Linked DNA regions of Homo sapiens. The protein of the gene in region 1 purifies or fractionates together with the protein of each later gene. This does not show direct contact. Each region holds a gene or a part of one and is shown on either strand. Other genes may lie near its edges.

What was found.
Region 2: the proteins of ADCK2 (region 1) and BRI3BP purify together in Homo sapiens (affinity purification with mass spectrometry; one large-scale study listed by BioGRID and IntAct). This does not show direct contact.
Region 3: the proteins of ADCK2 (region 1) and MTARC1 purify together in Homo sapiens (affinity purification with mass spectrometry; one large-scale study listed by BioGRID and IntAct). This does not show direct contact.
Region 4: the proteins of ADCK2 (region 1) and ST13 purify together in Homo sapiens (affinity purification with mass spectrometry; one large-scale study listed by BioGRID and IntAct). This does not show direct contact.

The regions. Positions count from the first base shown.
Region 1 is NC_000007.14:140,689,945-140,692,777, forward strand, and holds part of ADCK2 (uncharacterized aarF domain-containing protein kinase 2), read left to right. Parts: intron 1-815; coding exon 816-869; intron 870-2,833. UniProt on the Homo sapiens protein: The function of this protein is not yet clear. It is not known if it has protein kinase activity and what type of substrate it would phosphorylate (Ser, Thr or Tyr).
Region 2 is NC_000012.12:125,014,145-125,017,644, reverse strand, and holds part of BRI3BP (BRI3-binding protein precursor), read right to left. Parts: intron 1-3,500. UniProt on the Homo sapiens protein: Involved in tumorigenesis and may function by stabilizing p53/TP53.
Region 3 is NC_000001.11:220,807,413-220,810,912, reverse strand, and holds part of MTARC1 (mitochondrial amidoxime-reducing component 1 precursor), read right to left. Parts: intron 1-3,500. UniProt on the Homo sapiens protein: Catalyzes the reduction of N-oxygenated molecules, acting as a counterpart of cytochrome P450 and flavin-containing monooxygenases in metabolic cycles.
Region 4 is NC_000022.11:40,832,640-40,836,139, reverse strand, and holds part of ST13 (hsc70-interacting protein), read left to right. Parts: intron 1-252; coding exon 253-337; intron 338-469; coding exon 470-580; intron 581-3,468; coding exon 3,469-3,500. UniProt on the Homo sapiens protein: One HIP oligomer binds the ATPase domains of at least two HSC70 molecules dependent on activation of the HSC70 ATPase by HSP40. Stabilizes the ADP state of HSC70 that has a high affinity for substrate protein.

The DNA of each region.
Region 1 (2,833 bases):
TCATCCAGGGGTCGCTGTTCATTTGGGGACAGCCAAGCATACAGGGAGGGAGGACTGTGGTCTCCAAGCAGCCAAATGATGTGCCCAATGCGCATGTCCCTTATTTAAACCCAAGCCAGAGCCTGCTTTGTATTTTATACACAGTTCTAGCAAATGTGACTGTTTTATCCCCAAGTTCATGGCCACATTAGCAGGAATGGGTCAGACAAGGAGTGGCCACTGGCACGCTGGCCCTGCTGATAGTCTATCCAGGTGTGATTTTTTAAAAATTTTTTTGAGATGGAGTCTTGCTGTATCACCCAGGTTGGAGTGTAGTGATGCTGTCTCGGCTCACTGCAACTTCCACCTCCCGGATTCAAGCGATTCTCCTGCCTCAGCCTCCCGAGTAGCTGGGATTACAGGCACCCGCCACCACACCCGGCTAATTTTTATATTTCTAGTAGAAATGGGGTTTCACCATGTTGGCCAGGCTGGTCTCGAACTCCTGACCTCAAGTGATCCGCCCGCCTTGGCCTCCCAAAGTGCTAGGATTATAGGCAGGTGTGATTTTTGTGGTTGCTTCAGGGATGGGGTGGGTGGGGCTCAAAGGCTTGTCTTCCAAAGGCCTCTGTGACCGAGTCTTGAGGTGGAGTTGGGCTTGTGCTGGAGGAGTCCTTTCAGAGTTTGTCAGATGGTCCCTTTTGTGCTGACTGGTGTATGTGTGCCCTGGCGGGGGAGTGGGGTGGGATGCTGGGGCTGAGAGTGTGGGGGTGGTGGGAAATGAGCGGTTCTGGAAGGCTCGGTGGTCTGCATTAGCCTTTATTTTGTTTTTCCAGCTTCATGTGTCCAGCCTTCTCTCTAGTGTCTTTAAGTTGCTGATGACTCACAAGGTGAGGGCCATTCAGAGGGGAGGTCTCTGGGGAAGGTGGGACGGGGCAGGGAGGAATGGGAGGACACAGGGTGGTGGGAGGCGCTTCTATTATATGGTTCTTGTTTTTTGTTGTTGTTTTTCTTTTTTTTGAGACAGAGTCTCACTCTGTCGCCCAGGGTGGAGTGCAGTGGCGCGATCTCGGCTGACTGCAGCCTCTGCTTCCTGGCTTCCAGTGATTCTCTTGCCTCAGTCTCCTGAGTAGCTGGGATTACAGGCTCCCACCACCACGCCTGGCTAATTTTTGTATTTTTAGTAGAGACGGGATTTCACCATGTTGGCCAGGCTGATCTCGAACTCCTGACCTCAGGTGATCCACCCTTCTCGGCCTCCCAAAGTGCTGGGATTACAGGCGTGAGCCACTGTGCCCGGCCTATTATATATTTTGAAAGCATTTTTAGTAACAAGCCATTTGCAACAAGTGCTTCGTAGCTGTTAGTCTATCTGTCAAGTCAGTGCAGTCTAAGTATCTGTGACATTTAAATGTAGAAAAGTGTATTTAAAAATGTAGAAACAGCCTACCTCTGGCTTTTCATGTCTTTCCCTCCTTGGTTCACTTTCATGATGCTTGTGTTAATGTAAGTCATGCTTAGCTCTTTCCTGGTGGAATGAAGTCCTGGGGTCCAGAGGCCGCTCTAGAGGGTCATGCCTTGTGTCCTGGTGCTTTCAGAGGCCCTAGCGGGACTGCTGTGGCCCCTGCCTGGCTGCTGTAGTCCATTAGAGGGAGCTGGCCTCATGGTTCATCTTAGCCTGTGCCCCGGCTCTGTCGCCTTGTCATGGAGCCTAGTCTCCGGCACTCTTTAAACTAAGGCTGCTGGCCAGGGACAAGCAGTGTTGAAGGTGGAGAAGGGAGGACCTCGTTGGAAGATGGCCTTTTCCATTGCATTACTTAACTATATGACATCTATTAGTAACCAATTTATCCCCTCAGTCTTCCAAGAGGCAGGCACCAAAGCCGAGAGGCCGAGCAGCTCACCTGTGGCCATGTGGGCAAGCCCCCGCCTGCTGCTGGGTCCTCCCGCCTCCGTGGCTCACTCTGAGCATCTGCTCCCCACACAGTTTCCAGCACGGTGGGTGAGGGGCCTTGAGTGTTTGCTGCTGCTGCTGCTGTTCCCAGGATGGAAGAGGAGACAGAGGGCCTAGGGCAGCTACTGCACTCCAAGCACTTCACTAGGCACTTAAGTTTGAAAACATTTACAAATTTTTCATTGTGATGAAAAACACATAAAATTTAACCCCCCAACCCTCTCCAGATGCATAGTGTTAGCATTGTGCAACAGATCTCTAGGTCTTTCTCATTTGGCAGAGCTGAAACTCTACAGCCATTGACCAGCTCCCCATTCCCCTCTCCATCCGGCCCTGGGAACCACCATGCTGTTTTACGTTTCCATGATTTTGGCTACTCTTGATATTTCATATAAGTGGAATTATAAAGTATACTGTCCTTTTGTGATTGGCTTGTTTTACTCAATATAATGTCCCCAGGTTTCATCCATGTTGTAACATGTGACAGGATTTCCTTTTGAGACAGGGTCTCACTGTGTCACCGAGGCTGGAGTGCAGTGGTGCAAGCTTGGCTCATTGCAACCTCTGCTTCCTGGGTTCAAGCAATTCTCGTGCCTCAGCCTCCCAAGTAACTGGGATTACAGGCAAGTGCCACCATGCCCAGCTAATTTTTGTATTTTTAGTAAGAGATAGGGTTTCGTCATGTTGGCCAGGCTGGTCTCGAACTCCTGACCTCAAGTGATCCACCTGCCTTGGCCTCCCGAAGTGCTGCGATGACAGGCGTGAGCCACCGCGCTTGGCCTGTTATTCTGTTGATGCTGTTGATGTTCACGTGGGTTGCTTCCACTTCTTGGTTATAGTGAATAATGCTGCAGTGAACATGAATGTGTAAATATCTTTTCAAGATCCTACTTTCAAATT
Region 2 (3,500 bases), on another chromosome or scaffold:
GCCATCTATCGTGTGCTGAGCCCTTGAAATGTGACAAGTCAGAACTGATGTGCGCTCTAAGTGTCAAATAGAGACTGTCTCAAAGGCCTTAGTTACCCAAAAAACTGTGAGACACCTGATAATTTTCTATTAATTATAAGTTGTTTTTAATATATTGGGTTAACTAAAATATCTTATTAAAATTAATTTCACCTGGGCATGGTGGCACATGCCTGTAATCCCAGCACTCTGGGAGGCCAAGGCAGGCAGATCACTGGAGCTCAGGAGTTCGAGACCACCCTGGGCAACATGGCAAAACCCCATCTCTATAAAAAAAAAACATTAGGGGGGCACGGTGGCTCACGCCTGTAATCCTAGCACTTTGGGAGGCCGAGGCAGGTGGATCATGAGGTCAGGAGTTCGAGAATACCCTGGCCAAGATGGTGAAACCCCATCTCTACTAAAAAAAAATACAAAAATTAGCCAGGCATGGTGGCAGGTGCCTGTAATCCCAGCTACTCGGGAGACTGAGGCACGAGAATTGCTTGAACCCGGGAGGTGGAGGTTGCAGTGGTGAGATGAGATCGGCCACTGCATTCTAGCCTGGGCGACAGAGCAATACTCGGTCTCAGAAAAAAAAAAATAATAATAATAATACAAACGTTAGCCAGATGTGGTGGTGCACACTTGTGGTCCCAGCTAGTTGGGAAGCTGAGGTGGGAGGATCACCTGAGCCTGGGTTGGTGGAGGTTGCAGTGAGCTGGGATTGCACCACTGCACTCCAGCCTGGGCAACAGAGCAAGACTCTGTCTCAAAAAAAAAAAAAAAAAAAAAAAAAAAGGCTGGGCGCAGTGGCTCATGCCCGTAATCCCAGCACTTTGGGAGGCTGAGGCGGGCGGATCACGAGGTCAGGAGCTCAAGACCAGCCTGGCCAACATAGTGAAACCCTGTCTCTACTAAAAATACAGAAAAATTAGCCGGGTGTGGTGGTGCATGCCTGTAATCCCAGCTACTTGGCAGGCTGGGGCAGGAGAATCACTTGAACCCAGGAGGCAGAGGTTGCAGTGAGCCGAGATAGCGCCATTGCACTTCAGCTTGGGCAATAGAGTGAGACTTCGTCCCTCCTACCCCCCACTCCCCACCCCCTCCCCCCCAAAAAAGGAAGAAAAACTAATTTCACCATTTCTTTTTACTCTTTTGACATGGTTACTAGAAAACTTCACATCACCTAGGGGGCTCACATTTTTTTGCTATTAGACCATTCGGGGCTACAGAGTTCCCATTTTAACCAGACTCAAAAAAAAAAAAAACACTGAAGAAAGAAATTATAGAATTGTGCTCACAGAAACCTTTTTTACCAGAATATCCAACGTTGGTGTATGGCTTCCTGTAAAGCATTTTGCACTCAAACTTCTACGCATAAGACACGAATTCCAAAGGGCTTCGGATGCCTTGAAGCTTACGCATCAAACAGAACTAGAAAAGCTTCGACACGGAAGCAAGCTCGTTTCGCCTCCAGAACGCGCCAGCTGCTCCCCTGATGAATGCAGGCATTCAGGGCTCGTGGATCCGCTGCCGATGCCTCTATTCTGGGCTTCTTCCATATGATTAGGAGGCTGTTCCTACTCTGTAGTTTTTCATTCCAAGCTGCGTGCGATTTTCTGCAATCAGGTTTGTTTCTCCAGGGTTCAATGGGTGGCGACGAAAACACAGAGAGTTTGACAATCCGGGCAGGTGGTGGATACGGAAGCTAAGAGGATTGCACGCGGTGGCTGCATCTGGGGGAGGGTGCGTTAACTCTGCCAAGTCCCTGGAGGGGCCATGAGTGGCCCCAGGGGGCTGCCAGGTGCACAGTGTCCTCTGGCTATGCTGACGCCTCTGATTCTTTGTCTGAGCAGTGAGGTGACTGAGTTGGCCTAAGGCCTCTTAAAGGTTGAACTCAATGAATTAAGGCTGGAGACATTTCTGAATGGCCTGGGGTGTCAACAGGTATGAACCAGTGTGCCCATCATGGCCAGTGGACCCCACTCCCCCATCTCTGGGTGTCAAGCACCAATGGGCGCTGCTGAGAGATTCCGCATGTAACAGGGCTATGGTATAATGGTTTCCCGTGACTGCCGCAACAAACCACTACCAACTGGGTGGTTTACAACAGAAATTCATCCACTTGCGGTTCTGGAGGCTGGAAGTCTGAAATCAAGGTCTTGGTGGGGCCACACTCCCTCTGAAAGTTCAAGGGAGGATCCTTCCTCGCCTCTTCCAGCTTCTGGTGGTCCCAGTGTTCCTTGGCTTGTGGCTCCGTCCCTCCAGTCCCTGTTTCTCATTTCGCATGGCCGTCTTCTCCCTATGTTTCTTGGTGTTTCTGTGTCCAAATTCCCCACTTCTTATAAGGACAGCAATCATTACACTGAGGGTCCACCCTAATCCAAGACGATCTCATTTAACTTTATCACATCTGCAGACCCCACTCCCAAACAAGGGCTCACTCACAGGTCCAGGATTAGGACTGGAACACATATTCTTGAGGAGCACATTTCAGCCCACATGACTGGCTAAGCAGTGGGACCCACAGCCCTCCTGCTCTTATTAACCAAGGGTGGGCTGGGTGTGGTGGCTCACGCCTACAATCTCAGCACTTTGGGAGGCTGAAACAGTAGAATGGTTTGAGCCCAAGAGTTTGAGACCAGCCTGGGCAACATGGTAAGACCCTGTCTCTACAGAAAATTCAAAAATTAGCCAGGTGTGGTGGCATGGGCCTGTGGTCCCAGCTACTCGGGAGGCTGAGGTGGGAGGATCACGAGCCCAGGAAGTTGAGGCTGTAGTGAGCTGTGATTGAGCCACTGCACTCCAGCCTGGGCAACAGAGTGAGATCCTAAACAAAAACAAACAAAAAGGGCCTCTTTGTGCCAGGTGCAGAGCTGGGGCCAGAGTGCAGCCTGGAGATGCCAGGCCTAGGCTGTTGACACAAATGATGTGGTTTATGACAACACCTGCGTTCCCTCTGGGAGTCTAGAATTTTGACACGTGTCAAGCAGAGGGTGACTACATGACCAGCCCCCAGTAAAAAGCCTGGGCAGGGAGTCCTTGGTGGGCACCCTCTGCTGGGGGAATTAAGTGTGTCCCGTATGACTCCACAGGGAGAGAACTCTGAAGCTTGGGCCTGGCCTGCCCGGGAATTCGCGCACCTTTTCCCTTTGCTGATGGTGTTTGCGTCCTTCCGTCACAATAAATCACGGCTGTGAGGACAACTATATGCTGAGTCCTGCCAGTGCTCCTAGGGAACCGGTGAGCCTGTAGATGGTCTTAGGAACCCTGCCACATGCAGCAACTGCAGACCTTCCCGTGAGACAGGTGGCAGCTGGGACCAGGGACCAGGGCGGTGGGGCTGGAAAGAGCCCAGCTGGGGAATTTCCTCTGGAAAGGCCCAGGGGAAGAGCGGCCTCCACCTTGTGGACAGAAGGAGAGCAGTGGAGCGGGGGCAGCTAGGAGATCCCTGTTTACCTGGCACACCATGGGGCACG
Region 3 (3,500 bases), on another chromosome or scaffold:
GGGGGAGTAACAGACTTGCCTGAGATCACAGATCTAAAGGATCCAGCTGGGGCCAGAGCCCAGGCCTGGCTGACTTCAGAGTCTAGTGGACTCTTCCCACCCAGGATGTAACCCTGGTCGTCGACATCCTCCTGAGTACACCCACAGGCCTGAGAAGAACCGAGGGGTCTCACAATTTAGTCACCTACACCAATTTCTAGCCACTTACATTTTTCACCTATCCCTTCCTGCCAACCAAGCACAGACACACTCACTCCCCCACCAGGTAATGAGGAGCAGAGGACCGTAAAGAGCGGCTGCCCCTCTCGGCACAGCCTCCCTAAACTGCACAGGTCGGGGTGAGGGAGCTGCTTTGTGAAAGTGCAGGTGTGGTCACCGGCTCACAGGTGGCGGTCCACTCCGCTGTCTAGGAGTAGAAGCGGGAAGAGCTATGGGAGTGGAAAAGGGGTTCTCGGTGGGCCGGCCTGCCAGGGCTTTCCTACAGCTGCCTGGTTTTGCTGCGGGCTCTCACCGCCTCCTGCACCACCTCCTCTTGCTACTGCTGCGGAAGCCCGCCTCCAGGCTGTGGGAAGACTCAACGAGGTCACTAGCGGCGCCTTGTGGCACTAAGAGGTATTGCAAGCAGTCTATGAATTCGTGCGCACACTAAGTTCAACACTCTGAAACAGTATTCTTTCATACATGGGTCTTCTACGATTTTTTAAATATGTGACTTTTCATATATGTATTCCTGTTGGTATTAATAAATTAAAACTCATTTAAAATCTTCCTTAGTGCACTTTCTCCTTAAATGAACATGAAACATAACTATTCTAATGAGCAGGAAGCCCAAGACACTTTATTTAGCTTAAAACCGAGGTCTCTATTATTTACAAGGTGCAATGTAAATGGAAACAGTTTGTTACCGTTAAAGTGCTGTGCACCACAGAGGGCTGATCCTTGTTTACCCTGCCTGGTTTACGCATTCACTGGTCAACGTCCAGGCCATGACTCCAGGCAGAGTATCTGGTCACTGCCCGATCCCACCACTGGCGTTCATGGGACCATAAGTCACCAGCGGCAGAAGCCATTCCTGAGGCCTCATGACTGCCTATCTCTATGGCCAGGTTAAGAATTAAACAGCATTGTTAATCCCAATACTTTGGGAAGCCAAGGCAGACACGTCACCTGAGGTCAGGACTTTGAGACCAGACTGGTCAACATGGTGAAACCCTGTCTCTACTAAAAATACAAAAATTAGCCAGGCGTAGAGGCGCATGCCTGTAATCCCAGCTACTTGGGAGACTGAGGCATGAGGATTGCTTGAACCCAGGAGGCGGAGGTTGCAGAGAGCTGAGATTGCTCCACTGTGCTCCAGCCTGGGTGACAGAGTAAGACTCTGTCTCAATAAATAAATAAATTAAATTAAATTAAATTAAATTGAAGAATTAGACGGCATCGTGAACGTTCCTGGGAGAGGTGCCACACTGAACCTCCAGAGGCTGGCCGCTGGGCAAGTTCGTGTTAGGTTTCATTTAAAGCAGCCTCTGAGTATGGGAAGAAGTGTGGTCAGGCTTCTCCTCCTCTCAGAAGGTGTCAAGTTTATAAACAGTGACTCTCAATGACCGCAGCTTACATGGTCACTGTGTACAGTATTTTATCATCTATAAAAATCCTATATCTTGCCTTATTCCAGTCTACCAGAAGAGGTATTACAAGTCCAGTTTATACCAATAAAGAAACTGTGACTTGAAGAGCCTAAGCGACTTGCCAATGTCACACAATTAGGAGGTGACAGAGCCAGACTAGGGTGGAGAGTCTGCCTCCTCCCATGGAGTTACCACTGCTATATATTCTGTGTTTAGCTCAGCAGAGCACAGCCTGACACAAGTGGCTGCTGGCAAATGTCATTACTGTCACAGTATTCGTGCATCCAGCAAAACGTTTTTTTTTTTGAGTACCCATGCAGTAACTGTGCTATATTCTTTCCATTAGGGGCAAAATGTCATGGAAGCAACAACGGCAGACTCCAGCCATTCCTTCAACCATGGGGATCAGTGTGTACGTCACTTTCCCTTAAGAAAGAAAAGAAAAATTCCATTTTCATATCTTCCTGTTAGCAGACATGCCTCCACTGTGCCTCCCGCTGTGAGCATTTTACAGACAAAGGCTTCCCTATGCCTCTGTATTTCTTTTCCTCCCACTGCTGTACCACCGCGGGCTCTGCCTGTGGGTGACTAACATCAGGAGGCAGGGCTGGTCAGGCACAGAGGTCTCCCAGCTGAGCGCTGGCATTCCAGAAGCAACCCCAGCCATGGGCACCATGAGTGCCCAGAGGCAGAAAGTGGTGTAGCTCTGAGCAACCTGCCCAATAGCAGAGAGGCTGTGGACACCACTGTTTGCTTCCCTTCCCATGATTTATGGGATGTGGCCAGGCCTTTCTCTTCCCGATTTATGACCACCTGTCTTGGGAAGAACATAAATTACACATCCATGGCAATTTAAATCTCAGTAAGAGATAGGAGAAGACACCTAGGCTGGCCGCACTGTCTCCTGGGGTATTAGAAGCAATTAGGGCCAGATTGTTGGGCTTCACAAAGCCTGCGGAAGATCAGGGGGGTGTGCTGGCTCCTTGCGCCCCCCGCCTTCCCACCCTCACTCTGTGTTTAGGGTCAATTATCCTCCTTCTATAAACACAGGCTCCCAATGGAGGAAGGGGGGCACTGAAGATGCAGAGAACAAGCCCAAACACGTGAAGTGCTTTGCGGAGGCTGTTTCTGCAAGAGCATAAACCTTCTAAATCCAGAGGGAAGGATGCCCCACACCGAGCAACACACAGGGGGAAGAGAAAGAACAAGATGGACAAAAAAGGATGACAGCCAATTCCCCAAACCACTTGGCTGATTTACACAGAATCATCTATTTCTGTCCTGCCTCCTTTATTTTATAGGGAAGAACACTCAGGGTCTGAGTGCGGGCAGGGGTAGGAGCACAGCAGTCGGTGTGCTGCACATCCAGGTCTCCTGACTCCCAGCCCGGGATCTTCCCGCTGGCCCACCCTGCTTTCTGCCCCTAGTAGCTCCTCTGTGGCCATGGAAAACAGGAAGACTGAATTCTGGTTTGTTCTGATGGTGAGTGAGCGCATTTCAAAGAATAGCTATAACCCTGGTCCTCTCATCAATGTTCTGTCACATATAGTGACATTTCCCCCCAAAATTTTACTATGAAAATTCTCAAGCAGGCAAATGGTGAAATAATTTTACAGCAAACACCCATTTACCCGCTGCTTGAATTCTGAGCTTAACACTTGACTATATATATTTGTTTTTTTGTTTGTTTGTTTGTTTTTGTGAGACAGAGTCTCACTCTGTCATCCAAATTGGAGTGCAGTGGCACAATCTCAGCTCACTACAACCTCCACCTCTCGGATTCAAAGGATTCTCCTACCTCAGCCACCCGAGTAGCTGCAAATACAAGTGACCACCACCATGCCCAGCTAAGTTTTGTATTTTTAGTAGAAA
Region 4 (3,500 bases), on another chromosome or scaffold:
TCATACTAAGAATGTGCTATTCTATTGTTAGTTAGGGGCTTACGTACTCAGAAATTGTCTTACCTCGTGAGTTACAGTATAGGTGTGGTAAGATTTGCTTTCAAGAGCCAGTTTTAGTATAACTTAGTTGTCTTTTTTATTTTTACTTGATTAAAAGAAAAATGTAAAAGACTTAACTGGATAACAGATCAAAACTTTTTATTAATATTTTTATCCTCTGAATATTTCTCGATAACTTTTGTTTCACTTTAGGTGAACTCCAGAAAGCCATTGACTTATTCACAGATGCCATCAAGCTGAATCCTCGCTTGGCCATTTTGTATGCCAAGAGGGCCAGGTGAGAACTCTAAACAGAAAAGCATCCCCTGGCAAATAATTTCTGCACATTTGTTTAAATAGAGTTGCTTCTGTGTTGATCCCAAAACTTTTACTGAAATGAATACTTTTTAATAACACACTTATTTTTCAGTGTCTTCGTCAAATTACAGAAGCCAAATGCTGCCATCCGAGACTGTGACAGAGCCATTGAAATAAATCCTGATTCAGCTCAGCCTTACAAGTGGCGGGGGAAAGCACACAGGTAAATAATTGAATTTAATTATTTTCAGAACTCTTTACATTTAAATCTGATGTTTTAAGATGCTTTGTTTAAACAAAAACACAAAAGTTCCTAATGACTTAATTTTCAAATTAGTGTGTACTTAGTATCAAGAAGTGAGATAGCTTGTAGACAGCTGCTTAAAAGGTAAAAGAAAAAAAAAAGAAATTTAAAAGAAGAAGTGAGAATATAGGAAGGAAGAAATAAAAAGTATTTTCATTTTTTTCATTCAAATAAAGCTACTCTTACCAGTTTTTGACTACATATGGCCAAATATAAGGAAAGGATTTTTACTTAAAATTAATTCCAGGAAAAGAAAGAATGATCTTTTATCAGTGTCCTTACAAATTTTCTCTTACTTTCAGACTCTGTAAGTTAGCATTGAACTACCAGTGTATTATAGAAGAAGGAGTATGCCAGCCTGAAACTACTTCAGTCACTGCTAGGCCACCTGAAAAATTAGGAGAAGGCGGGGGGGCATAAAGAGGTGAATTTAACCCAGATTAGTAATTATACCTTGCAGCAAAACTTAGGAATATTTGTATCTTGGGAATGAAGTGTTCAGTGACTTTCACATGTTACCTGGGTTGAAAGGGCTCAAATGTGGATGGAGATAAAGATGGATATGTTTTTAGGACAACTGTATTAGCTGACTCAGAGTAGCTCTAGTGGATTTTATGACACATGTTAAAGATAAACATTAAAAGTTGAAATAAAATTTATTAATGCTGTGTCAGCACAGGAAAAGCCCATGCATTGCTGTTGATCCTTTTGAAATCCCATTAGTCCAAGTATTTCTTTGCCTTCTAATACAAGACAGCGTTGGCTCATCTTGTGCTTTGCTTGTCTCAGACTGAAAATAAGCTATTTCTGTGGGAAATCGTGGTTCATTATAGCGGAAACTAAGATTTGATCACTGTGTCTGTTCATTGCTTCTGGTATGTACTGTCGTTTCAATGAACAGCTAGAAAAAAACATTTTAAAAATCATGAATTTAGGGAAAAAATTCTTGAAATTGTGAGTTTATACTGATATTTTCTATTAAAATGTAACATTAAATGTTTTGTTTTACCTTTTAGTTTGTATTTTTGACACTTGTGTGGTAAAAATTTTTGTCCTAGTTTTACATTTACTTACTACAATGCTGTGATATACATAAAACTGTTTCAGAATTACAATACCTTAAAAACAGTATACACTCTAAGTAAAGTTTGAAGGTTTTTTGGGAAGTTTTTGTTTTGCTTTGTCTTTTGTTTCTACACAGAGTCTCACTCTGTTGCCCAGGCTGGAGTGCAGTGGTGCGATCTAGGCTCACTGCAACCTTCACCTCCCAGGTTCAAGTGATTATCCTGCCTCAGTCAGCCTTCTGAGTAGCTGGGATTACTTACAGTCGCGCCCCACCATGCCCAGCTAATGTTTTGTATTTTTGGTAGAGAGGGGGTTTCGCCTATTAGCCAGGCTATTCTCAAACTCCTGGCCTCAAGTGATCTGCCCTCCTTCCCCTCCCAAAGCATTGGGATTACAGGTGTGACCCAAGGATGTTCTTATTCTTAGAATATATATCCCACTTGAAATATACAGTCAAGATAACTATGAAAAGTTACTTGAATTCATTTTTTTCTGTGTAGCTTATGTTGTTAATGCAATACACAGTGTTTTGTTTTGTTTTGTTTTGTTTTGAGGCATTTTGCTCCTTCACCCAGGCTGGAGTGAAGTGGTGCAATCTTGGCTCACTGCACCCGCCCCGGGCTCAAGCGGTTCTCCTGCCTCAGCCTCCCAAGTAGCTGGGATTACAGGTGTGCGCTACCATGTGTGGCAAATTTTTTATATTAGAGATGGGGTTTTGCCACATTGGCCAGGCTGGTCTTGAACTCCTGACCTCAGGTGATCCACCAGCCTCAGCCTCCCAAAGTGCTAGGATAATAGGCATGAGCCATCGCGCCTAGCCACACCTTATTTCTTTTTTTTTTTTTTTTTGAGATGGAGTCTTCCTCTGTCACCCAGGCTAGAGTGCAGTGGCGCGATCTTGGCTCACTGCAAGCTCTGCCTCCTGGGTTCATGCCATTCTCCTGCCTCAGCCTCCTGAGTAGCTGGGACTACAGGCGCCTGCCACCGCGCCTGGTTTTTTGTATTTTTAGTAGAGATGGGGTTTCACCGGGTTAGCCAGGATGGTCTTGATCTCCTGACCTCGCGTTCTGCCCGCCTCGGCCTCCCAAAGTGCTGGGATTACAGACGTGAGCCACCGCGCCCAGCCACACAGCTTCTTATTTCTGTTTGTATTCAGGTTTAGGATTTGCTTTATTTCCATTTTTCTGATTTTATTTTTTGAGTATGTAAAGCATTTAAATGTTCGAAGAGTTACACCTGAGTTAAAAGGTATACCCAGTGAATTCTCAGTTTTCGTTGCTGTCTCCTCTGCCCCATTCTCACCTACTGTCACCAACCTTTAGTTTCTGGTTTACTTGTTCTGAGTTTTTCGTAAAGCCTGTACACATGTATTATTTTCTCTTCTGTCTTACATAGAAGGTAGCTAAAAGCTAACACATTATGTTAGTCCTGGTTTGGGCGAGTTGAAAGTTACTGGTCTACATACTTAGAAAATTACGATATTCTGAATTAAGAAAGATTTTGTTTGTTTTTTAGCTTTTAGTAGAAAAGCAGCTTTAAATAGAGGAAATTTAAATGTTTTCAGGTTTTTATAGAGTTAACTAAAATGGGATATAGTAATTGAATTGGTTAGTGAAAGTTTATAGTTAATATTTAACTTAAGCCTGTTTTAGAACAATCCTTTTTTGTAAGGAAGAAAGATATCATGCCACATAGGTGAATATGTATAAAAGGCTCCTAAAATGAGTGTAAATCTGTTTCAGACTTCTAGGCCACTGGGAAGAAGCAGCCCATG